3 separate regions of the Homo sapiens genome follow, and all the other regions are linked to region 1. The links come from fine-mapping of genetic effects on gene expression. A gene starts in region 1. Each other region holds a variant in brackets. All regions are shown on one strand. Distances are from middle to middle.

Region 1 (8,180 bases):
CTAAATGTGGCAACCCTCTTGACTTTGTATTTAAAAATCACCTTGCCCTCTGCCCAACTCCAATCTCCTCACCCATTTTTCCTCTCAGCCCACCCTCCATACACCTGCCCCCTCCCATAAAGTTCACAGTAATGCATTAAAGCTCATCTGCAGGCTAGCACCATTGCAAACTACATCAAGCTGCCAGCAAAGCTAGACCTTAAACATTTAAGGCCATTCCCCAGAAAAATTAGGGGCCATAGGACAAGGCTGCTGGGGAAACTCCGTGTGTCATACCATACTTCCTAGGTCCCAGGGGCATAGAAATACAAGCAACAAAACTTTATGTTTATTTGTTTTTAAAAAATATCTACAAGAGGGTGGGTTTGTTCTATAACTAATCATTTTCTGCTTATGAAATATAAACGTGTAAGGCTCAAGCATATTAACCTGGTATTAAAATCTGCCCTTTGTTTCATTCAAAAATTCCTATTTGGAAAGACAATACAGTAGAAATGATAATATGTGGAAACAGATATTTAATACTTGATAATATTCTTTTTCAATCAGCCCCAGACAAATGAGGCACTTTGGGGTATGTGTGTATGTGTGTGTGTCTGTGTGTTTACTTTCAATTAAAATCCTTTTCAATATAGTCCATACTTGATTGCAAGATGGGTGAGAACTTTCAAGTGATCAGAGAATCTTAGAGGGAGGTGATATGAACACATTGGGAAAAGAATGGCCCTGTCCCTGAATGTATAAATCACATCTGCATCATGAAATTCCATTTTATGCAATTTGCTAATAGGGGTGTTGATTTTTTTCTTGTTCTTTGACATATTGTGACTAATCCTGAATCATCTACCATGTGCTCAGACTCTGCTAATTGCTGTACAAAGTCTCCACACAGAACTGATTCACTTTTGAACTGTCTGGCTGACTTGCTTAAGTTCAATACACAAAATATGTCATATGCTAGGCTTATCGTAAACATTTTACGTGCTAATTTTTGGCCACCTAGTAAAGAGGCTTCCACATCACACAGGACCTCATTTAAGGACATGTTCAGTGTTCCCAGTTGAAAAAGTTCACAAGTATTAGGCTAAATACAATTCTCTTCAACACTGCTCAGTCTAATAAAGAAATCAGTAACAGACCTATGTACCTAAGTGAAAAAACACAATAGTGAGGTCCTATTTCCAAAGCTATTCTGTACCTTTCTTAATACAACCTTGTTATTGCAGCATAAACACAAAGAAGTCTGGACCTATTATAAAACCAAGTGAGAACCAACCCCCCCCGCCCCAAAAAAAAAATGCTGGGCTGTTGTTGCTGTGGATTTTGGTTTTTTTAACCTCACGTCTGCCTGAGTCAGGTTCACTGAATTCATCAACCTTTTCTTTGGTTTCCTGTGCACATTATAAATCCAGAAGGCTCTGATCCCAGGGATTGTTCTAACTCATAATTAGGAAACGTGAGCCCATTTCAACCACACTTCAAAGACAGGGAAGGAGGGGGAACGTAAATTCCTCTTTCTAAATCGAACCATCACAGAACTCGGCATTTCAACTGTCTTCATCTATTATCAGATCCAAAGCAACATAACCTCAGTGATTCTGGAAGAACTCAGAGAACAGACAATTCATGTAATTAAAAGACTTTGTGCGTGATAATTGGCTTTGAAGTTTCTGAGAGAGATCTCATCTCAAAAATCTTTGCAGAAAAATATGGGTACAGGGTTCTTGCAGCACGTATTAGAGACTGCTGAGACGCTTCACTCTCCTCCCAGTGTATCTATCTGCAGGAAAGGGGCACGGGTGGGGGAACCACACACAAGCAGCCCAGGTCAATCATGAGAAAGAATCTCCCGCACAAATCACACCATTTCTCTTCAAGGAAGAATGACTGTCCAGAGCTTCCAAACTTGCTCTTCCCATGACAGACAGGGATGCTGGCAGAAGAGAAGAGGAAACATTGAGGAATTCCTGCCTTGACACATGGCTTCAAGTCAGGGCTCCGCTGGGAAAATTCGGGTCACAACTTGTAGCTGAAACTCCACGTGCACCCTGCGGGGCCGCTGCTGCTCCCAGCACCCTACGGAAGGGTGAGCGCCAGACCCTGTGCCCAAACCTCACAGCGGCAGACCTGGAGAAACCCATCCCCCTTCTTCAGAGCCGCCCCCCAGGCTATATTTTTGGCAGCCTATAATACACAAAATAGTATTCCCATACAACAGGAGTGCTCCAAAATTATTTCCAAATAGGTCAGTGCCACCAGGGAAAGTCAATCCCAAATTCCAGAAATCTCCCTGGTCATCTCAATCCCCTCCTCCCCCGACAGCCGGCTCGGCCCTCCAGAGGCCACCTTTCCTCTCAAGGGTCCCCACGCCCTCTCCCTTTACAGAAAAGGCTTTCAGGAAACAGCCTTCCTTTCCTTTCGGCTCCTTAGTAGTCTCACCTAAGGCCTCCCACCCAAGTGCTCCAGGACAAGCACCTTCGGCCAAGGGGCGTCCGAGGAGCTTGGCTGCCGCACGAGCGCACGTTCACACGCGCGCACACACACATGCACACAAGCGCGCACACACACTTGCACACGAGCCCTCTCTCCCGGCCGCCCCCATCCTCCACACACTCCCACACACTCACTCCAGGCGAAGTTAGTCCCCGGGCCCTGGCGGCCGCGGCGTCCTCACCTTTGGAAAACAGGGCGGCCAGGCTGATGAGTACCGGCGACCAGTGGTGCCACAGCGTCCCCATCTCAGACGGGCACATCCTGGAGACCCGGAGCGCAGATCCTCCGCTCCCCGGCGCCGTCCAGGCGAACAAGAGACCGTCTCAGTCCCCTAGAGGCCCGCAGCGGGGCCGGTGGCGAGGGAGCGCCCGGCTAGGGGCCCGAGCAGCCCGGGCGCCCTGCTCCCTCTTCCCGCCAGTCCATGGCCAGGCCGGGAGGCGACGACCGCGCGGGCTCCTGAGTTGCTCTCCGGAGTCCAACACGCGCGCAGGCAAACCCCACCTCCCTCCTTCGACCCCAACAGAATTTTTTTTAAATTTTAATCCACAGGGGGTATTTCCTTTCCTGTTTACCCGAGCGAAGAGTGGCCCCCGGTGGCCCAAGGAGGGGCGCCTCCAGGCGCAGGGCTCCGGCGGCTCCAGCTGCTCCCGGGCTGGCTAGCGGGCGCTGGCGCAGGCGGCGCCGGGGTGGCGGGGCTGCGGAGCCCGGGACGCGGGCAGAGGCGGCTCGGAGCCCCCCGGGCGGGTGGCCGGGCTCGCTGGGCGGCCCGGGGCTCCCTGGCCCGCAGCCCCCATCCCAGGCCGGCCGCTGCGCCTCGGGGCTCGGGCGCGCGCGCGCTCCGGCACCCAAAGTTTGGCGGGTGCGGCTGCTCCCCGGCCGCCGCCTCGGCCCGCCCGGCCCCGGGCCCGGCTGGGGCTCGCGGGGCTCTACGCGCGCCGAGCGCACTGCAGGCTCCGGAGACGCGGGGCTCCCCCCTGCGCCCGGGGGAGGCGGGCCAGATGTGCGCGGAGGAGGGCCCGCCGGCTCGGGGACGCGGCCGAGCAACGCAGCTGCCTCCTGCCAGCAGGCGCGGGGGCTCCGCTCCGCAAGGACCGCATCCGGAACGGAACGGAGGCGATCGCCACGGTGCCCGGAGCCGGCTGGGGCTTTCGCCTTAAAAATTTGTCTGCTTTTAAAAAGCCCCACCCTTTCGGAGTGACAGCTGTGAGCCCCAATCCGCAAAGTAAATCCCACCTCCCCCTGGCCGCCCCACGCCCAGCCTCCCGGCCACCCTCCCTGCGAGCGCGGACGCGCGGTGGCGGCGGGCGAGGGCTCCCAGCGCGGGCGCACCCCGGGGACGGAGCCACCCACTCTCCCAACAGGTGTCCAGCTGGCCACCGGCCTCTCGTCGTCATCAAAACCTCAGGCCCAGGGGAGGTCCTCCAGCCCGGGGGCACCTGAGGCTCTTCGCCAGGGAGAGCGCAAGGATGGCTGGAGAAGGGCCCTCGCCCCGCCCTGCGCATCTCCCAGGGATCGCAGTGAGGAAGTCTCTGACACGCCACACTGAGGTCATGCTGGCCCCAAGCCCCTTCCCAGAGCGATCCCCCAAGTTAGTGTCCCTAGAAACATGTCGTGTGCTCCCCAGGGCTCACTGGGAAAGGAAATGGATCCATTAGGAGACAACATTGCTTTGAGAAGATAAAAGACATGATTCTCAACACCGCCCGGAATCTCCAACTAAGACATTCCCACACCAAGATCCCTAAGCACCGTCCTGTAATTTGTAGCCCAAGAACTGCTTTGCTCCACGAGAGCCTTTAAATTAACCCCATCAAAGCTCAGAGGGAAGAAAAGCATTCAGAATTTTTAAGGAATATTGTAAACCAACAAGCCCTGAATCTAATGAGGTGAATTCACCTCAGTAGATAAAAATGGGTCGTTATCATCTGACTGAGGGGGCAATGGACTTTTTTATCCTGTATGCCTGTAGTTGCAGAAATATACCAATGCTTTAAGAGTTTTTAGCTTTCAAAGTTTCAAGGAAGATCAAAAAAGCCACTGCTGTTCTACCGAAGATTGTTTTTCTGGGTTCATGTCCTTTGAGATGTGCTCTTGTCTTTTATTCTGTATCTACTTATCTGAATATATCTGTCTTTCTGTTTTTTCTTTTGTTTGTTTCTTAAACTTGTTGCCTTTTCTCTTTGTATTGCTCTCCTGTAAAATTCCTAAGAGTCGACGCTGCAAAGACCCTAAGAGATTGTCTCTTTCACTGTTTCTGAAGTTTGAACCAGCAGGAGAGTCACTGGAAAATTTGTTAGACCTGGGTTGCTGGGCCCACCCCAGAGCTATCTCGGCAGGTCAAGGTGGGACTTCCGATCTCCGTTCCTAAAAAGTTCCAGGTGATGCTGATGCTGCCGGCCTGCGGAACACGTGCTGGAACCACTGGTCCCCTTTCTCCTTCACCTGAGTGATGAGAGAGCTGAGCTTTCGTCTCTTGGACACCTTCACCTGGTCTCTGAGTGTCAAAATTGATGCCCGCACTGAATGCATAATCCAGGTTCCATCCTTAACGCTACAGTGGGTCTGAGTCTATTTGTAAATCATCTATTTGTGACACTGAGTCTATTTGTAAGACATTTCTCAGACATATTGACTAGAAACAAGTGGTCCCTGTTCTTTATTAAAAACAATCATTTTATGTTTCTCTAAATCAAATTGAGTTTTTCCCCTGAATTGCAATCATCAAATAACTTTTCTTTTTGCCATTGCAGAAGGTTTCTCTATCTGTAATGTGAAGACAAAAGGTGACTGTCAAGTTCCAGCTGCTGCCTAAAATGTTAAACGGTTTCTTCATTATGCGTAGTTGGCGAAACAAAAGTTTTTTCCACTCTTTGGTATGGAAGATTTTTTGGGAAGATGCAACTTCAGATACCTAATCAGTGGCTAAAATAAGATGCAAGAATGGCTTCTTACTTTTTCTCTCTCCAGTATGCCATTCTCCCTGGTACATCTAATCTTCTTTGGGTAATTAACACAGCTAATTGTGGGGAAGCAAAACTTAGACTTGGAGATGGACACTGAGGGCTCATAGGTCCCTAACTCCAGCCCCTGCCCCAGGACAACTTCCCATCAAAATCGCCTGCCTTGTCTCTCTCAAGTTACTTGTAAGAAATCTGCTTTCCTCCAAGAATATGTGTTTCATCTGCGGGGCCATAAATCAAGCTGTAAGCCTAATTTTGTCGGTAATTAAATTGCACTAATTGTTCATGCTGTGTGGATGAGGCTTTTACACTAAGCAGTTTTTGTTGTTATTTTTCAATAAAACAAAAACATTCCCTGTAGCAGTTTTTGAGAAATGGCAACTTTGAGCGTTGATAAAGGCAGAAAGGAGCTGGAATTCAAGTACTGCAGGGGCTATGCCACTGGTGGATGAGAGGACACTTTCAGGCCCTCTAAAGATGGGGCCTCCTGTAAAACTGAAGCCATTCTCTTCCAGTCCTTCTGACTGCATCCAGGAGAAAGGCTCAGGCCTGAGCTACTCCGGAACAGCCTTTTAGTAATTGCAAATGTCCATGTTTTTTAAACAAAAAAGGAAGCTCTTTCTGCACAATGACAACATCTAGCTCAAGTTACTAACATCGATTTGTTTTTATTTTGATTATTATTATTTTTGTTTTCTCTCCTTTTACTTGGTGATGCATTTTGTTTAAAAAATATCAAGTTATGTATGTTTATGAAGATGGGAAATGAGTAATGGATTTAGCAATCACTACTGACACGGGTGCAGGCACCGTCTTCTCTCTATGACAATACTCCGGAAGATGGTGAGAAATGAAGTTTGGGAAACCTTAGCATGAAGTGAGAGCTACCAGATCAATCCCTCCTGAAGATGCAGAAGAGACTTTTTGAAACTCCCTGTCTTCCCAGTTTTCCAAAATTCATGAAATGACTGGGAAATAGAAAGGCCTGGTTCAATCAACTGTCTCTTTCACTAGTGGGGAAAGCCTTCTGATGTTGAGGGCACTGTAAACACTGGGAACATTGCACACCCTTCCTGGTAAGGCCAGCAGGAGATCATCCTTCCAGAAGGAGCACCTCAGCGGAATCCATGCTGTGCCCTTGAGGAAGGTGTGTGTTTGCCAAGACCTGTCACTCTCTCCTTCCCAGCGCATGGATGACTACTCTTCTCAGCCCCTTGCAGTTGACCAACTAAATGTGAGCAGAAGTCATGGGGGTCATTTCTCTGGTGGGGCAGTGAAAAGCTCACCTGTGACTCCTCATTCTGCACCTGCCCTGCCCTGGGAGAAGAGTGGACCCTGTGTTTGAGATGGTGCAGCTGCTACAAGGTGAGCCTTCCAGCCAGCAGTCCAGCAAGTTGATGAGAGAGCAAAGTCCCCCGTCAATCCACATTAAGAAGTATGGTAAAAGAAATTAATTTTTATTGTGTTAAATCATCAAACTTCTTGGTTCTTCCAGGTTAACCATACTAAAATCCAGACCTACTTTTACTCTCCTCTCTCTGTCCTTCTCCCTTTCTCATCTCTTCCCAGAGCTCCACAAGCAGATGTTAAAAAGTTGGAATATTCGTGCTCTCCCAGGTGACCCATGGTGTCACCAGGTAACTGCCAGGTGAACCTCGCAGAGCAGCCTCTTCTGCAAAGACCAATAGGATACTGCTGCATTTTCCTTAAGTTACTGATTTATGGATCAATACAGAAAGGTCAGCAGGCCTTGAATAGTCTTCTTTGAAGTCACATGCTGGACTTCTTGGTACAAATTATGTATTTGTACCTCTAGCCTGATTAGTCCCTGAGTGTTTCTCGGTCAGGGGTGAGGTCAAGGAGAAGCTGCAAGGCTGCCTCTGCAGGAAACCCTTTGTTGTAAAGACTGCCTGGATTTTGCATGCACTGGAACCTGTGACAGAAGCATGTTCCCTCACCCCTGCTTCCTCTACCTGCTGGAGACACAGCCAGACCACATGCCCTGGCCTTCCTAAGGTTAACTGTCGCTATGGTTATGTCCAAAAGAACCTGGGAGGAAGGGATGTGCCTCCCTTTCAGGGGGAGAGTTTGGGAGCCTGTGAAACCCTCAAACTCTCTTCCTGCCTTTTCAAGCTGAATGCAAAAATTCAAGGGAGAACCCCCAAGCCTTCAGCAATGGCAGAGTTGCAAGTTGGAATGAGTCTGGTTCCGAAAATGTGGAATGCCACTTCTTTTGCATGGAATTTTGGGTGAGCAAGAAATAAGATGACATGGTGTTAAGTCATGGAGGTTCAGGGCTTTGTTTGTTAGAATGAACCATTCCAGGCAATACAGGGTGTATTGATCTCATCACTGCCAACAGAAGCAGGAGTGGGATATAAGGAAACACCTCTATCAGCTCCTGAGACTACAGCGAAGCTTTGGCCCATTTTACAGTATGAAGAGAGTCCAAAGGAGGGAGGAACCACCAACCACCACCAGCTAATGAATGCATGAGGTGCTCTGTCCCCTGTACCAGGAACTAGGGAAAAGGCAAAGGATGCCCTTGGAGAGCTGGAATTCGATCTCTTGGACGCATGAGGTGCTCTGTCCCCTCTACCAGGCACCAGGGAGAAGGCAAAGGATGCCCTTGGAGAGCTGGAATTCGATCTCTTAGGGTCTTCAAAGAATATTGCAGAGAACAAGTATCATCGGTTCCAAGAGAGGGTCCTCCTGGGCTGGAGCAGT
Region 2 (8,180 bases), 930 kb before region 1:
TAGAGACGGGGTTTCACTGTGTTGGCCAGGCTGGTCTTGAACTCCTGACCTCAAGTGATCCACCCACCTCGGCCTCCCAGAGTGTTGGGATGACAAGCGTGAGCCACCACCCCAGCCTGCTTGTGTTTCTTTCCTCTCCCCCAGGCATAACCAGAACGAATGGCAGATTTACCGCCGCACTTTAATGGGCTGCTCTTTCCCTCCAACTTCCTCCTGCTCTAACCCGCCAAGCCGTCACACAAGCCCAGAGGAAGGTCTCCCGGTCCCCCTCTTCCCTCCCTTTTCTGCCTCTCACCTTCTTCTTTCCTTCAAGATGCCCACCTTCTCCCCACCAACCCCCAAAGCACACCAGAGCAGCAGAAGCACCTTTCAGCCAGCCGGGTGTGTGTTGAAATGGCTAGTGTTCTACTCGGCCCATCGTCTGGAAAGTGAGCGAATGAGAAGCACAGAAAATATTCCTGAAGTTGTTTTTAGCTTCATCGGTGGCTCCCAGGTTTCCCGTGTGTGTGTGTAGGGGGTGTGTGTGTAGGGGGTGTGTGTAGGGGGTGTGTGTGTGTGTGTAGGGTGTGTGTGTGTGGGGGGGGCGCTTGGTGATCTGTGCTCCACACCACATGCAGCAGCGGTGCTCAGAGGGGGACAGTCTGGGTCTAGATGCCTTTTCTGCCACTCAGTGATGTGTTAACCTCAGGCAGGTTCCCAGGTGACCTGGGCTCCCATCTCTTGATCTGTGCGTGTGGAGGGGGAGAGGGCGCATAGGAATAGTCCAAATTCCTAGTTCCTTTTCTGCAATTTCAAAATCCAAAAAGCGCTTGGAAAACATGCAGTCGGGACCCACCTGCCAGCTCTGTGCGTTTTTACTAGCAGGTACCTGGCTGATGGCCGGAGTCCTTGTTCACACGGACATCTACGGACCCACCCGGCTCACAGATGGCAAGGGCTCTTGCTCCCTCCTACCCCAGCCACAGCAATGCCTTTGAGCCACACTAACCCTGCATCGTGCATTTCATGAGCCACAGAGCCCCGGGAATGGCAGGAATAAAACACAGGTTCTCCGACGGTCAGTGACCCTGCTGTTAGCTACCCAGGTCTTGCACTGTTTTCCCTCCTCAAATAACAGCTGTCCTTTGACCAGCACAATCGACCTCTGCTGTGCAAACGCCAGAAGGGAAAGAGGAGTTTTACTGTCTCACCATCCATAAGACCACTCTTTTTCGTGAGTTTGGTGCCAAAACTCCTGTCTGAACTGATGTGAAGTCACCTAGGGCTGTTTGTCCTGCGTCACGGGACTATTCATACATTTTGATTAAGAAACACTGATCTGTTGTTGATGGGCATGGCCTTAGACCTCGCTGGAGATGATATGTAATAGAAGGCTATAGCAGCTGAATTACTAAAATCCCCCAGGTCCTGAATTCTGAAGCCTCATTCCGTGTACGTTTTTGAGCACTGGATGCATGTTGGCTGCTGTTGTTAATTTCTGGCTGGATCCTGACCTCCACTGGAGGCCCTTGGCCAGAGGCCAGCTCTCTCTTCGCTAAAGAAGTGTTGAAGAAAGAAGCATTTGCCCCTCATTGAGGCTGTTCTCCCCTCCACCAGCAGTGAAGATGAATCGGATGGGAATTAGCTTTCTCACCTGCTGGCTTTCCTTTGTTTAGTGCCCCCCCGCACCTGCACCTGCAAACCTCCTTCCTCATGCTACAGACTCCCACGCTCCGTCACTCCTGAGCACCCACCATGTCTGTGGGTGGCCTGTTAGATACACGCTCAGGCATTGTCCCGGCAAAGGGTCTGAGCACGGAGCCTCCCTGGCTCAGCGTGCTTACACAGGGCCCACTGGCAGATTCACTGGGGGTCAGTCTTGGAATGGACGTCAGACTCAGGCATCATGACTGGGGGCGGGGGGAAGTCAAGCATCGTGAGTAGGGGTCAGAGTCCCCACCCTACCACCTTGTCCTCTGGCTCTGTATTGAGTAATTGCTATGCACAGGGCTCATTGACTGAGAGGTTATTTCTGACCCTACCCAGTTGGCTTGCTCAGTTTCCATCTGCAGAAGATTCCCATAGCTGTTTTTTTGTTTTTTATTTTTTTCTTTTGAGACGGGGTCTCACTCTGTCACCCAAGCTGGAGTGCAGTGGCGCTATCTCAGCTCACTGCAACCTCCAGGTCCCTGGTTCAAGCAATCATCCTGCCTCAGCCTCTGGAGTAGCTGGGACTACAGGCGCGTGCCACCACGCCAGGCTGATTTTTGTGTTTTTTAGTAGAGACAGGGTTTCACCATGTTGGCCAGGCTGGGCTTGAACTCCTGACCTCAAGTGATCCACCCGCCTTGGGCTCCCAAAGTGCAGAGATTACATGTGTGAGCCACAGCTCCCGGCCCCCTAATGGCTGTTTTTGATACTTATTTTAAAGTGAGCCCCTAACTGTAACCATGATGTTCAGGGTGAAATAACTTCAATTCTCCTATAAATCAATGACTACTCTGTGTTTTAAGAGGTGGGTGGAAGGTTCATGCTGAAGAGTTTAGAGAAGAGCTTCGTGTTCTTTTGCATGGTCCTGACTTTACCCGATGCAGGAGCTACTGGGAGAACAATCAACGTACGCTGGCAGTCGGGGTGATGACATGGTCACATTGATGTGTCGTCAGCGGCGACAGTTTGACAGTTTGGATAGTGCCATAAAATGTGACCAGAGGGATGGTGCCGTGTACAAGAAAAGTACCACAGTCAGATGCACGTTCCTCTTCTAGGCATTGAGGTCTTGAAGGAGGAGCCTCACAACTTGCAGTTTTCAACAAAATAAATCTGTCCCATGACCAAATAATTTTTGGAAAATGAGGCAGGCACGGCAGGTTGCCTTAGACCTGTCAGGCTTCCTGCAATCCCCTGGGGGCGCTGTTGGACACTGTTAGAAAACGCTCATTCCTGAACCCCACCCTCCACCCACCCAATCAGTATCTCGGGGACTGAGGGCGGGTATGTGGGGCGTGTGTGTTTTACAAGCTCCCTTAGAGAGTCTTACAGCAAGGTTTGAGAAGCAAAGCCACCGTCGAAGCCTTAATTAACTCAAAGCCTCCAACCAGAAAAGCCCGAGGAAAACCCGAGATCTTTAACGACGGCGGCCTGCGCCAGCCTTGAGACACTTCCTCGTCAACGTCTCCCATCGACAAGCTGTCGTATTTGAAGCAGCGGGAGAGGAGCTTCGGGGCTGTTTAGTTTAACACACCAAGCCTGAAATTCAAGAGTTTTCCTGTGATTGACTGTAGCTCATCTTGGAAAAATAAGTATATATCACTTGCTGAAGGTTGTCAGAATGTAATGCTCTTTAAAACCGTAACGTTTTAAATCTGCCAGCCCCAGCATGCATCCTGCTCAAGGCTTTTGCTTCTCGTGGAGGAGTTTTTTTCCCCTTCTGTTCTATGGCTTTGAGGTGACATCATCATGAGAAGGATTGTAATGAGGTTCTAATATTCATTTTATAAAATGGGTACTGGCTGGGCGCAGTGGCTCACACCTGTAATCCCAGCACTTTGGGAGACCAATGAAGGTGGATCACTTGAGGCCAGGAGTTCAAGACCAGCCTAGCCAACATGGCAAAACCCTGTCTCTACTGAAAAAACAAAAATTAGTCGGGCGTGGTGGCACAAGC[C/A]TGTAATCCCAGCTGCTTGGGAGGCTGAGGCAGGTGAATCGCTTGACCCCGGGAGGCAGAGGTTGCAGTGAGCCGAGATCGCGCCGCTGCACTCCAGCCTGGGCGACAGAGAGAGACTCCATCTCAAAAGCAAAACAAGAAAACAAAATGGCCACCACTTCTTTTCCTCTGGATCTTGGTGAAACCTCAGGGGGATGGAGCAGGTCAAAAGGATTCAATGAGAAATGCTCCACCAGCAGCTCCAGACTCCTCAGAAAGGAAGAAGCTCTGAGGACGGTCATCAACTAATTGAGTAATTACTCTCTAAAGACAAAACCATGCTCTTTTGCATGATTATTATTATTATTTAACATCACAAGTGCATTACCTGAGCCAGCGTTGGCACACCTGTGGCCCTGGACCTACATCTGGTCTGCACATGTGTTTTGTTTACTTTGCTGTATTCTTAAAATATTGAATTACCTGTTGATATTTAACATGGAACACTTTTACATAAATATCCAGAATTTAGACCTCTCTTGGAAAAGAAAAGAAATGCGGCAACCAGCATAGGCCTGTATTTACCATGTGGCTGTGTGCACCTCCCACTTCACCTGCTGGGCCCCGGAAGGCATTTGCGTTTCCCACCGCTGATCAGGAACAGGTGAGGCTTGTTTTAAACTCTCTTGAGAGATGGAATTTCTGTACTTGGTTTTGCTTTGAGTTTTTAGCGTCTGCCCTCTATAATGCCTTGTGAGTTCTTTTCTTTTTTCTTTTTTCTTTTTTTTTTTTTTTTGAAACAGAGTTTCACTCTTGTCGCCCAGGCTGGGGTGCAATGAATGGCGCTATCTCAGCTCACTGCAACCTCTGCCTCTCAGGTTCAAGCGATCCTCCTACCTCAGCCTCCTGAGTAGCTGGGATTACAGGTGTGTGCCACCATGACTAGCTAATTTTTTTGTATTTTTGGTAGAGACAGGGTTTAACCATGTTGGCCAGGTTGGTCTGGAACTCCTGACCTCAGGTAATCTGCCCACTTCAGCCTCCCAAAATGCTGGGTTTACAGGCATGAGTCCCCGCACCCGGCCTGTGAGTTATTTTCATAAATAATTTTCAAGAGTAGATCACTGCATAGCCAAGCAGAAGATCCTGAGTGGACACCCCCTCCTCCGGGGTTACAGTGCGTGTGTGTGGCTGTCAGCCAATCGGCTTTTCCGCAGCTCCCAGCTGAAACCTGTGTGAAACCTGCAGCACCTGGGCTGGAAGGATCTGCCTCAGGGACACTCAGGTCTGCAAGTCCTGCTGTGTAGCTCTCCAGTGCATTTGATAAGGTGCCCGGTGTCAGATTCCAGAGCCATGGCTGATGTCCGGCATGGCATGTCAGGGCGGGCACGGCTCTCCTCCTCCGTGTGAGTGTCTGGCCCTGCCTTCCTGTGTGCGGCATCGTCCTGAGGTCGGTGGGAATTGCTGCAGTGGATCCGGGCTCCCCATGCGACCTGGGTGGCCTCAGAGGCTGGAGGGGGCAGTCGTTCCTAGTGTTCTCTTCTTAGAAGGAGGAAACCACTTTTTCCAGAAGACACTGACTGCTGATCTCTCCCTCCCATCTTGTTACGGGAAAGGGGTCCCGATCCAGACCCCAAGAGAGGGTTCTTGGATCTGTCGCAAGGAAGAATTCAGGGTGAGTCCGTAAAGTGAAAGCGAGTTTATTAGGAAAGTGAGGGAGTAGAAGAATGGCTACTCCGTAGACAGAGCACCGTGAGGGCCGCTGTTTGCCCATTTTTATGGTATTTCTTGATGATATGCTAAACAAGGGGTGGATTATTCATGTCTCCCCTGTTTAGACCATATAGGGCAATTTCCTGACGTTGCCATAGCATTTGTAAACTGTCATGGGGCTGGCGGGAGTGTAGCAGTGAGGACAACCGGAGGTCATGCTCATCGTCCTCTTGGTTTTGGTGGGTTTCCGCTGGCTGCTTTACTGCAAACTGTTTCATCAGCAAGGTCTCTGTGACCTGTGTCTTGTGCCGACCTCCTATCTCATCCTGTGACTTAGAATGCCTTAGCCTCCTGGGAATGCAGCCCAGCAGGTCTCAGCCTCAGTTTACCCAGCTGCTATTCAAGATGGAGTTCCTCTGGTTCAAACGCCTCTGACAATCTCAGTGGCCAGACTTGGGTCAAACGTTGGCAGGGGAGAACAGGGTAACAGTGTTCATTCTCTACTGCATGTAACAAATCACCACAAACTCAGCAGCTTGAAGCCACACCTGCCTGCTGTCTGGCAGTTTCTACAGGTCCAGGCTCTGGGCACAGCCCAGGTGGGTCCTCGGCTTGGGGCCTCATGTCCCACCAGTCCCTCTCGGTGGCTGGGCCACATTCTCCTCTAGGGCACGGTTGGTGGCGGGGTTCAGTTTCTTGTGACTGTGGGACTAAGGCCATTGTTCTCTCGCTGGTTGTTGGCCAGGGGCCACCCTCAGCTCTTAGAAGCTGCCAGGACAGATGCCCCTGGATGTGTGATGGGCTACATCTCAATAAACCCACTGGAAGCTGAAAATGCACTTAACAGCCTGGGCAACACAGTGAAACCCCGTCTCCAGAAAAAATACAAAAATTAGCCAGATAAGGGGCATGTGCCTATATTTCCAGCTACTTGGGAGGCTGAGGTGGGAGGATCTCTTGAGCCCAGGAGGCTGAGGCTGCAGTGAGCTGTGGTTGCACCACTCTACTCCAGCCTGGGTAACACTGCGAGACTCTGTCTCAAAAAAAAAAAGATGAGAAAATGCACTTAATACACCAACCTCCGGAGCATCCCGGCTTAGCCCAGCCTACCTCATCAGTGCTCAGAACACTTACACTAACCTATAGTTGGGCTGTCATCCAACACAAAGACTGTATTACAGTACGGTTTTGCATATCTCATATAATTTATCAACTACTGTACTGAGAGTAAAAATAGAACGGTTGTATGGGTGCCTGAAGTACAGTTTCTACCAAATGCATCTCACTCTCACACCATTGAAAAACTGAAAAACCTTAAGCTGAACCATCATAAGTCGGGACTGTTTGTGGTTTCTTGCCCCACGGCCTGGCAACATAGGGTGTCCCCTGCTCTGCTTTGCTGAGATGAAGTCCTGTGTGACACCACCCTGTCGAGGGAGCCACATCCCGGGACCTTTGCCATATTCTGTTGGTTGGAGGCAAGTCCACCCACACTCACGTCACAGGTGGGGGTGGCTGGGGTCAGCCCAGGGTGTGTCTGCGACCCCACAACAGGCTCGGACAAATCAGGACCAACTTTTGGAAGTGGAGACAGGGTCTTCTTCCCAGACCATGTTGTAAAGGGGTAGAACTTCAAACATTCACGGTTCTCTTGTTGAAGAGGAGGAGCTGAGTGCCTGGCAAGAGTGTCAGTTATACATCACTGTGTAACTAAGAATCCCAAAAGTCAGTGCCTTACAACTACCGCCATTTGATTTGTTTGCAGTTTTCCGAGTCTGCAGTTTGAGCTGGATTCGCGGGGTGGTGCTTCTGCTGATCTGGTGAGTGGCCTGGGGCCACTGGTCCAGCAAGAGTCTTCTGGCGGCTGGCCTGGAGCTGGATGTTCCGAGACGGCCTCACTCATGGTGTTGGTCACTGCTCAGTGTCCCTGTTCACATGGCCTCCCTTCCCCCAGGAGACTAGCCCAGGCTTTGCTTTACCTGGTGGTCTCCAGGGCCGGGGCGCATGGAAGCTATAAGGGCTTTTGAAGCTTTGTGTGGAAGGCAGACGGCATCACTTCCGATATATCCTGTCAGTCAAAGCAAATTACCCGAACAAGTCAGATTCATCGGGGGCGGGGTGGGGAATAGACCACACCCACTCAACGGGGACAGTGGCAGTGTCATATCGCAAAGAGATGTGCATACAGGGATAGAGGGTGTGGCCATCTTTGCAAACCATCTTCGCTGGTAAGCACACGACAGTCTGTGTCCACATGGATTTCTCACGTCTACAGGCGCGTGTCCAGCAGATTCCCGATGCAGCCACACAGGAGCTTTTAGTCCAGAAGAAAATCCCAGAGCCTCAGGGAGTGACTTAGGATTCAAGAGAGATTTTTGCTTTTGCTAATGGTTTTCCTTTCCTTTCTTTCTGCCACTCATCCAGGGTTTTAAGCCAGCAGCCAAGACGTTGCTTACTCATAACCCCCCTCTCTCTTGCTTTATTTAAGTCTATGTTTTTTCGTTCACTTTTCCATGCGGAGAGAAAAGAAGAGTGTGTTTTATCACAATCTGTTCCTAGAAACTCTTTTATTGAGGATTTGGTTGTAAAAGGGCCATGCATTCTGTAGGAATAGTAAGCAGAGCGGGGAAGGAGGGGGTTGGGTTTCCACCAAAGTCTCCACGTCAGATAAATCAAAGATATGACCAGCATCATAAAATAATATACCCAGCTATAAGCATCTCAAATGATTTTAATAAGAATGTTGTTCTACCCTGAAACGGGAATAAACATATTTTTATTATAAAACGACCACCAATTTACTATGAAGTATAAACGTAATCTATAAACATATAATTCTACT
Region 3 (8,180 bases), 380 kb after region 1:
CATAAATTCCTTCTACTACCTCCAAGGCAGTAAGAGAAACAGCTTAGAGACTGGAAGTCCTTTGCCCAAATACAGCCCAGGAATCCAGCCCCCAAATCCAGCCTCTTGGTCATCCACTCTCTGGTGCTGCCTTGCACGTGGTTTGCCACTTTAACTTCCTCCTAGCCGCTCGCCAGGCATCCCAGGATAACGCTGTGGCCTGGGTTCCGTGAGCACCTCTCCCACCCAAAACACTGGAGGGGCCTCTTCTCATTTTCGGTAGACTGCAAGTGTTAGCCGTCGGGACCAGCTTCTGTCTGGAAGTTCGTCAAATTGCAGTTAAGTCCAAGTATGCCACATAGCAGATAAGGGAATGTACAAGACACTCGGTGTCGTGATGGACAGTGATGGCTGTGATGATGTCGTACGCTCAGCTGATCCTTCTCCCTGCTGAGAAGAGTTCAGCTGGATGCAGGGAGCCTTACGTTACATATCAGGAAAAACTTTCAAAAAAAGAGATGTGTTTCAACTGTGAGAGTTAAAATACTAAAGACTCGACCCAAGGACATTGAGTAACATTCTTTCCTGAAAATTTTAAGAGTCACTGGATAATGGTGAAGAAAGCCTGGACTGGAATGTCAGAGGTGCCTGAACTCAAGTCCGGTCACCAGCTGGGTCAACACAGGATAGCTACTTAATCACTCCTCATATCAGCCCCCACCTCTATAAAATGTGGACATTAATATTATCATGAAGGTTTATGGTGAGGAACCAAGAGAATGTAGCTAAAAATCCCAGAACATCATAATTGCTTAATAAATGGCAACTATAATGATTCACTCTTAATACCAAGAGAAATGCCTAGCTCTCTTTTGCTACTTCATTGTAGATGAACTGAATAACCATTTTGGTTAACTATGAATTAAACAGGAATGATCAAACATATACACATACAAACCATGATTAGGAAGGAGCTGGACTCAGGTGACTCTTGGTAATTGCCTTGGGAATGTTAGATGCTGGTTTGCAAGTCCCCAAACAGAACAATCTCCCATAGCTAAATACACTGGGGCATTAGGAAGATGGAGTGAGATTCACAATGGCAAAGACATGGAATCAACCTAAATGCCCATCAACAGTAGACTGGATAGAGAAAACGCAGTGCATATACACCATGGAATACTATGCTGCCATAAAAAAGAATGAGGTCATGTCCTTTGCAGGAACATTAATGGAGCTGGAGGCCATTAACCTAAGCAAACTCATGCAGGAACAGAAAACCAAATACCACATGTTCTCATTTATAAGTGGGAGCTAAATGATGAAAACTCATGGACACAAAGAGGGGAACAATAGACACCAGGGCCTACCTGAGGGTGAAGGGTAGGAGTAGGGAGAGGAACAGAAAAAATAACTACTGGGTAGGGTACTATGCTTAGTCTCTGGGTGATGAAATAATCCGTACAATACCCTGTGACATCAGTTTACCTCTATAACAAACCCGTACACTAATCTCCAGAAAGAGGCCTAGCAACCTGAACCTAAAATAAAAGTTAAGCAAAAAGATGGAGTGAGATCCACCTGCGCCACCAAGAAATGATCCATAGAACAAATCATTACATAAGAAAATAAAAATCACAGACGATTGCTCTCTATGGACACATTTACACAAATCCAAGTAAATGGAGAGGAAAAGGCGCAGGGGGGGATATGGATAAACAGCAGGGTGTTGACCACCAGCCGCTTGGGAAGAAGACCTGCTGTGGGGATGGAAGGGAGAGAGCAGGGAGGCCTCCAGGGTTTATACCCTGTATATTGTTCACGTTTTTTACAATGAGCATTAATTCCTCTGTCACCTATGCAATATTTTTTACATGTTCAAAACAATTCCTAAAAATTATAATTTCAGAGTGTGGCATGATAAAAAATGTAGTGAGGGATAAAACACTACAAATCAGATTCAGTGTATATTGCTTGGGTGATGGGTACACCAAGATCTCACAAATCACTAAAGAACTTACTTGTATAACCAAATACCACCTGTTCCCCAATAACCTATAGAAATAAAAGTTTTTTAATGCAGAGCAAAATTAGGGTGAAGGTTTATGTGGTAGAGTGTGCCACTATTGGAGGAATTTTTTAAATGGTATATACAGACAGACAGACATATCTTCTTCTTCTTTTTTATTTTTTTTAAGACAGAGTCTTACTCTGTCACCCAGGCTGGAGTGCAGTGGTATGATCTCGGCTCGCTGCAACCTCCACCTCCCGGGTTCAAGCGATTCTCCTGCCTCAGCCTCTCAGGTAGCTGGGATTACAGGCATGTGCCACCATACCTGGCTAATTTTTGTATTTTTAGGAGAGACACGGTTTCACCATGTTGGCCAGGCTGGTCTCAAACTCCTGACCTCAAATGATCCGCCTGCCTCAGCCTCCCAAAGTGGTGGGATTACAGGCGTGAGCCACCATGCCCAGCCCAGACATATCTTCTTATATGGACGAAAATAATCTCCAGAAGTAGGCCTAGCCACTGATGAGAATGGCAGTCCATAAGCTGTTACTGTTCTGGGGTGAAATTGTTACGTTTTAAATTTGCTATCTTGTCAATGTAGTATCTATTTAAGGATAATTACTTACATGTTAAAATAAAAAATAGAAAAATTTAGATGCCCAGAGAATAAATTAATGCTTGTAAAACCAAAATAAACACAGACCTGAAGCATCCCAGGTAAGGTTATGTTCCCTTTGACCATTGCTGTTTCTTTAGCTCAGTTTTAGGTGAAGTGTGGATGAAGAGGTGAAGAAAGGAGGTGATTCAAAGAAAGTCTCCACAAACCCGAGATTGTAAAATGTCTCATTATGAGGTCTGGTGGAAATGGATTTGAAAAGCCTAATTTCCAAGTTAAAAGAGGAAAAGAGGCTGGGCGGGGTGGCTCATGCCTGTAATCCCAGCACTTTGGGAGGCTGAGGCAGGTGGATCACCTGAGGTCAGGAGTTCCAGGCCAGCCTGGCCAACATGGTGAAACCCGGTCTCTACTAAAAACACAGAAATTAGGTGGGCATGGTGGCACGCACCTGTCGTCCTAGCCTCCTGGGAGTCTGAGACAGAATTGCTTGAACCTGGAAGGTGGAGGTTGCAGTGAGCAGAGATTGTGCCACTGCACTCCAGCTCCAGCCTGGGCGACAGAGCAACACTCCATCTCAAAAAAAAAAAAAAAAAAAAAGAAAAGAAATAATTCTAAAAGTATTCAAGCAATAAAAGTCAGCTGATATTTATTATCTACTATAGCCAAGGCATGGAGTTGGGGTTTTATTTGCCTACTTTCAGTGAGAAAGATGAGCTAAATCGTTTTTATGGAAAATAAAAAGGAAACATTTAAAGTAACAACAACCAAAAGTATCCACCAATAGTCTCTGCATCACTTGGGAAGCCGCTAGGGAGTGTGGGACACACGCTCAGCTAAACGGCAACAGAGAATCAAGCAACTGCTGGCTTTAGTGCCCTGCTACTCCTAAATATGCTTCAATGTTTGCCTCTTTCACTGGTTAAAAGCACTGTTGTTGGTCTGACGGTCTTTGGTTTCTCTTCTCAGGGAATCTCAGACCGAGCACTTTCATTTCCTTCTCACCATGCAGGAAATGAGTAGACGTGACACTCCTGTTTTGGTAAGAATTGACACACAGCTACCCTCATCTGGTGAACGGACGAATTGGGGCTAAAGCTGAATGGCTGACATGTCAACAACCTGAAATAAAAACAAACCAGCCTTGTTTAAGAGTGAATTTGCTTTGTGCAAATTGTCAAAAAGAAAACACGGAAAAACCGTCTCCTGCAAAGAGGAAGAAAAGGGTTACGTTGTTGACAAAATCTGGGTTTCCTTGCAAATAATGGTCTGTTGCTTGTATGCCATCGTCACATTTTGGATGGCAGATTGTTTAAGAAATTAAAAAAATAAATAAATAAATTATCTAGTTAGCAAAAGGTCTGGAGCACAGAGGCTGGTCATTTACCCCAGGGCCAGGAAGATGAAAGCACGTTCACCCGCCATTTGCGGCTGCCCTAGCGCGTTAGTACCATCTCCCCGTGCCCACAGATATCCACACACAGCAACTCTCAGGGGACAAATGCGAAGCCATGTGATTTTCCCCCTGCTATGTTAAAAATGCATTCCTATTTTTTCAAGCATGCTTCGATTAAAGAGGGCACATCTGTTTTAAGTCCCCTTTTATGAAAATTACTGAGCTTCCTCGGCGTGCTTATCTTTTAATTTCGAAATTCTTTGTAGCAATCACTTGGGATAATAACCAGCCATATTTCTGGCCCCTTTAAAAAATAAAGGGGAGGGTGGGGAGGAAAAAAGAAAGAACGAACAAGCCATTTTAGAGCTTTGAACTCCCTGTTCTAATCCTCCCGCTTTGGGCCTGGGTGGAAAGGGTCCCCCTTCGTTTGCGTTTAGAATGGCTGAGCCCCGCGCGCACTGCCTCAGCCTGGCCTGCCAGCCCCCGAGCCTGGGCCCAGCTTGACGCTGCAGCGCTATTCATCGACTCCCCGGCAGGGGGAGCCGCTGCGCACCGCCACCGCCAGGCAGCAAAGCGCTCAGCTTCCTTTTAAGGCCTCTTCATCCCCCCACCCCCAAACACTTTTCACAGAGTTTCTCACCCCTTTCTTCCCTCTGGAGGGGCTCC[T/C]TGAACGGACACCACCCTGGATGGCTTTTTCCTAGGCAGACCTCCCACCCCCGGCGTTTTTGTTTCGAATAGCACCTAACGGGCGGGGTTGCATTTACCATCTGTGTTTCGAATAGCACCTAACGGGCGGGGTTGCATTTACCATCTGTCTTTCTGCTGTTTTAAACCCTTGTTTAAGGCTCAGGCTGTTCAGAGACGTAATCCGGGGCTTGAGCAAAGAGTGAAAAGTTGAGATTCCTTCTCTGGACTTCCTGCACCGATTTTTTCCTTGTTTCCTCCAAGCGTTGATGAGATGAGAGATGGGCTGTAAGGTGGGGAATGGAACACACGCTTAAGTGTCTGGAAACCGTGTGATTCTTGGGGATGGCCACATAGCTGGAGAACCGTGGAGTCGTCGTGCCTCCTGGGCCACACCCGCCACCTGGCTTCAGTTGGCTGATCAGCAGCAAGAGGCAGAGCTTAACAGTTCTGTTTTCCTCCCCGTGAAATAAGGATAACGACAATTTCAGCTGAGTCTTTATAATCATCTGAAGAAAGGGATCCCTAGATGTCCAAGACGATTTACTGTGTGCTATGTTTAGAGGCTAAAGATAAAATAAGAAGAAACGTGAGGTAACTGGTCTCTTCTCGTCGACGCACTTAGGAAGCCCAAATACTTTCATCCTGAAAGCGTGCAATCCCCTGCCACATTCATGTCTGCAACACTGACTTGGAAATTCCCTGAATAAATAAGCGCATACGGCAGGAGATGCTAATCCAATTTAGAAAAGTTCTGCGGAGCTTGATTTTTCCCTCCCACTGGACAATGCCGGGGTCTTTCCATCTTTATCTTGGCAAATGGGGTCAGGAGAAGAGTGAAAGGTAAAAGTATTAGTTCTGCTTTAGTTCACAGCGCTGACGATCAGTATTCAAATGGGACTGGTGGTGACATGTGGCTTTCAGTCACAGCACACGCTCTCCCTCACCGTGGAAGATTGGTCGTTGAATGTATTTACTATTTAAAAAATGACCTGAATCAACAAAATCTTGCTCACCATCCATACGTACTTATTGTGTATCTACTGCCTACAGGAAGCCTCCAGGCCAGGCACTCAAGAGCAACGCCCATCAATAGAAAGATGTTTCCTGGAGTTAAGATCCTAATCAAGTTGGGGAGACGAGGTCTATAAGAAGAAAAGAATATTAATCGTTAAATGTCAAAGAGTTGCAGCAGCATTTATTCAGAAATTAAACAGCAAAATTATTCTTCATGCTAGGAATATAATTCCTAAGACAAGCAAAGTCTCTGCCATAGTGAAGGCTACCTGGGAGGAGATGGAGGACAGAAAGCAAACACGCAAACAAATAAAAATGTAATTTCAGGCCGGGCGCGGGGGCTCTCATCTGTAATCGCAGCACTCTGGGAGGCCGAGGCGGGCAGATCACTTGAGGTCAGGAGTTTGAGACCAGCCTGGCCAACATGGTGAAACCCTGTCTCTACTTAAAGATACAAAAATTAGCTGAGTGCGGTGGCAGGTGCCTGTGGTCCCAGCTACTCAGGAGGCTGAGGCAGAAGAATGACTTGAACCTGGGAGGCGGAGGTTGCAGTGAGCCGAGATCACACCACTGCACTTCAGCCTGGGTGACAGAGGGAGACACCATCTCAAAAAAAAAAAAAAAACCCAGAAAAAAAGTGTAATTTCAGACAGTGACATGAGCTATGGAGCAAACAGAGCAATGAGGTGGGAGGGGCGGGTGGGGGTGATATGGCAGCACCTCTGGGAAGATGGCACTGAAGCCCCAGGGAGGATGGCTGAGGCTGGGAATAGGCTGGAAGAGGGCTGAGGGTGAGGCTGGAGAGAGGCAGGGCTACATCATCCAGCGTGGAGTTTCCCATGTCTGACGGGCATGGGAGTCAAAATGCAGATTCTGGTTCCAAAAGTGCGTGCACGGGTTGGGGGATGAGATTCTGCATTTGGAACAAGGTGACGGGGCTGCCACACTTTCAACCATGCCTAGAGTAGCAAGGGCCAGAGATTTGGTTTTTGACCTCAGCCTCGCTAGAGTCACCTAGAGAACTTTTACCAATCTCAGATGCTGGGGCCCCTTCCTGGTGGTTCTAATGAACATCAAAGGTTGAGAACTACTGATTTAGCATCTTGGCCATGGTAAATGATAAGGGTCTTATTGTCTCACCCATTGGGAGGGGCTAAGAGCCACCAATCGGCCTTCAGAGGAGGCTTTCCAGGGTAGACCAGGGCTTGAGCCAGACTTCGGTGCACATCAAGCTCAAAGAGATAGAGGTTCAAAGAGATCCATTAGAGATGGATAAAAGGCATAAGCCAGGTTTCTCAACATTTTGCACCATTCTAACATTTTGCATCATAATTCTTTGCTGTGGGGGGGCTCCTGTGTGCTGTGGGGGCACTCCTGTATTCTGTGGCATGCTATGAGCAAACCTGGTCTCTACCCATGAGATGCCCGTGGAACCCTCCCAAGATGTAACAGCCAGTAATATCTCCGGATATTGCCAGTTGTCCCTGGGAAAAGAAATGGACCCCAGTGGAGAACCACTGACATAAACAAAGATGAAAAACCAGAAAAGTCAAAGATCCATGCATTATCTGAATGACATTCACTCCACATCTGTGGTTTACCATCCTGGACTCCGGCGGGCTTTGGAGACAGGTCTCCCTCTCTGAAGGCAGAGAAAACACAGGCTTGGGGTGCCAACAAATGCATACATTTATTTGAAAAGAAAAAATTTGACATTGAAAAAAGGCACCTGATATAGTTTGGCTGTGTCCCCACCCAAATCTCATTCTGAATTGTAGCTCCCACAATTCCCACATATCATGGGAGGAACCCAGCAGGAGGTAATTGAGTCATGGGGGCGGGTCTTTCCCATGCTGTTCTTGTGACAGTGAACAAGTCTCACGAGATCTGATGGTTTTGAAAACTGGAGTTTCCCCGCACAAGCTCTCTCTTTTGGTTTTGAACACTGGAGTTTCCCCGCACAAGCTCTCTCTTTGCCTGCCACCGTCCACGTAAGACATGACTTGCCCCTCCTTGCCTTCCGCCATGATTGTGAGGCCTCCCCAGCCACGTGGAACTATAAGTCCATTAAATATTTTTCTTTGGTAAATTGCCCAGTCTCAAGTATGTCCTTATCAGCAGCATGAAAACAGATGAGTACAGCACCCAAGTAGACACCACTGGGAGAATCAGAATTCTGTTAGTCTTCCTCATTTTAAGTTTTAATATTTCCTTTATTTAAAAGACTGGGCTGCTAATACAAGCAACAATGTGTATGAACCTAGCAGGCAGTCCTGGAGAAGACTCAAAGGAGCACAGAGTATTCGATTCCACCTATGTGACATTGGAGAACAGGCAAAACGAACTCAGGGTCTCGGGGTCGGATTTGTGATTCCCCTGCGGGGTGGGCTCAGGGGAGACTTCTGGATGCTGGAAATGTCCTATATCTCAGTGTTCCTTTCTGGTACCAGGGACTGGTTTTGTGGAAGAAACTTTTTTTA

What was found. PIP is the estimated chance that this variant, and not a neighbour inherited with it, causes the effect.
Region 2: its variant is fine-mapped to the expression of TMEM132D in whole blood (GTEx, PIP 0.94).
Region 3: its variant is fine-mapped to the expression of TMEM132D in prostate (GTEx, PIP 0.95).

Annotation. Positions count from the first base shown.
Region 1 is chr12:129,900,587-129,908,766 of GRCh38, forward strand. It overlaps TMEM132D (transmembrane protein 132D), which reads right to left and starts at 3,439. Exons shown (of 9, transcript NM_133448.3): 1 at 2,675-3,439. The coding sequence starts at 2,753.
Region 2 is chr12:128,973,375-128,981,554 of GRCh38, forward strand. The region is part of intron 11 of GLT1D1 (glycosyltransferase 1 domain containing 1); the gene reads left to right. Among named protein-coding and RNA genes, the nearest start is that of GLT1D1, 120 kb to the left of the region's middle. RefSeq lists an enhancer at 3,183-3,687. The variant C/A (reference allele first, on the strand shown) is at 3,647.
Region 3 is chr12:130,276,830-130,285,009 of GRCh38, forward strand. No RefSeq gene overlaps it. Among named protein-coding and RNA genes, the nearest start is that of PIWIL1, 57 kb to the right of the region's middle. The variant T/C (reference allele first, on the strand shown) is at 4,666.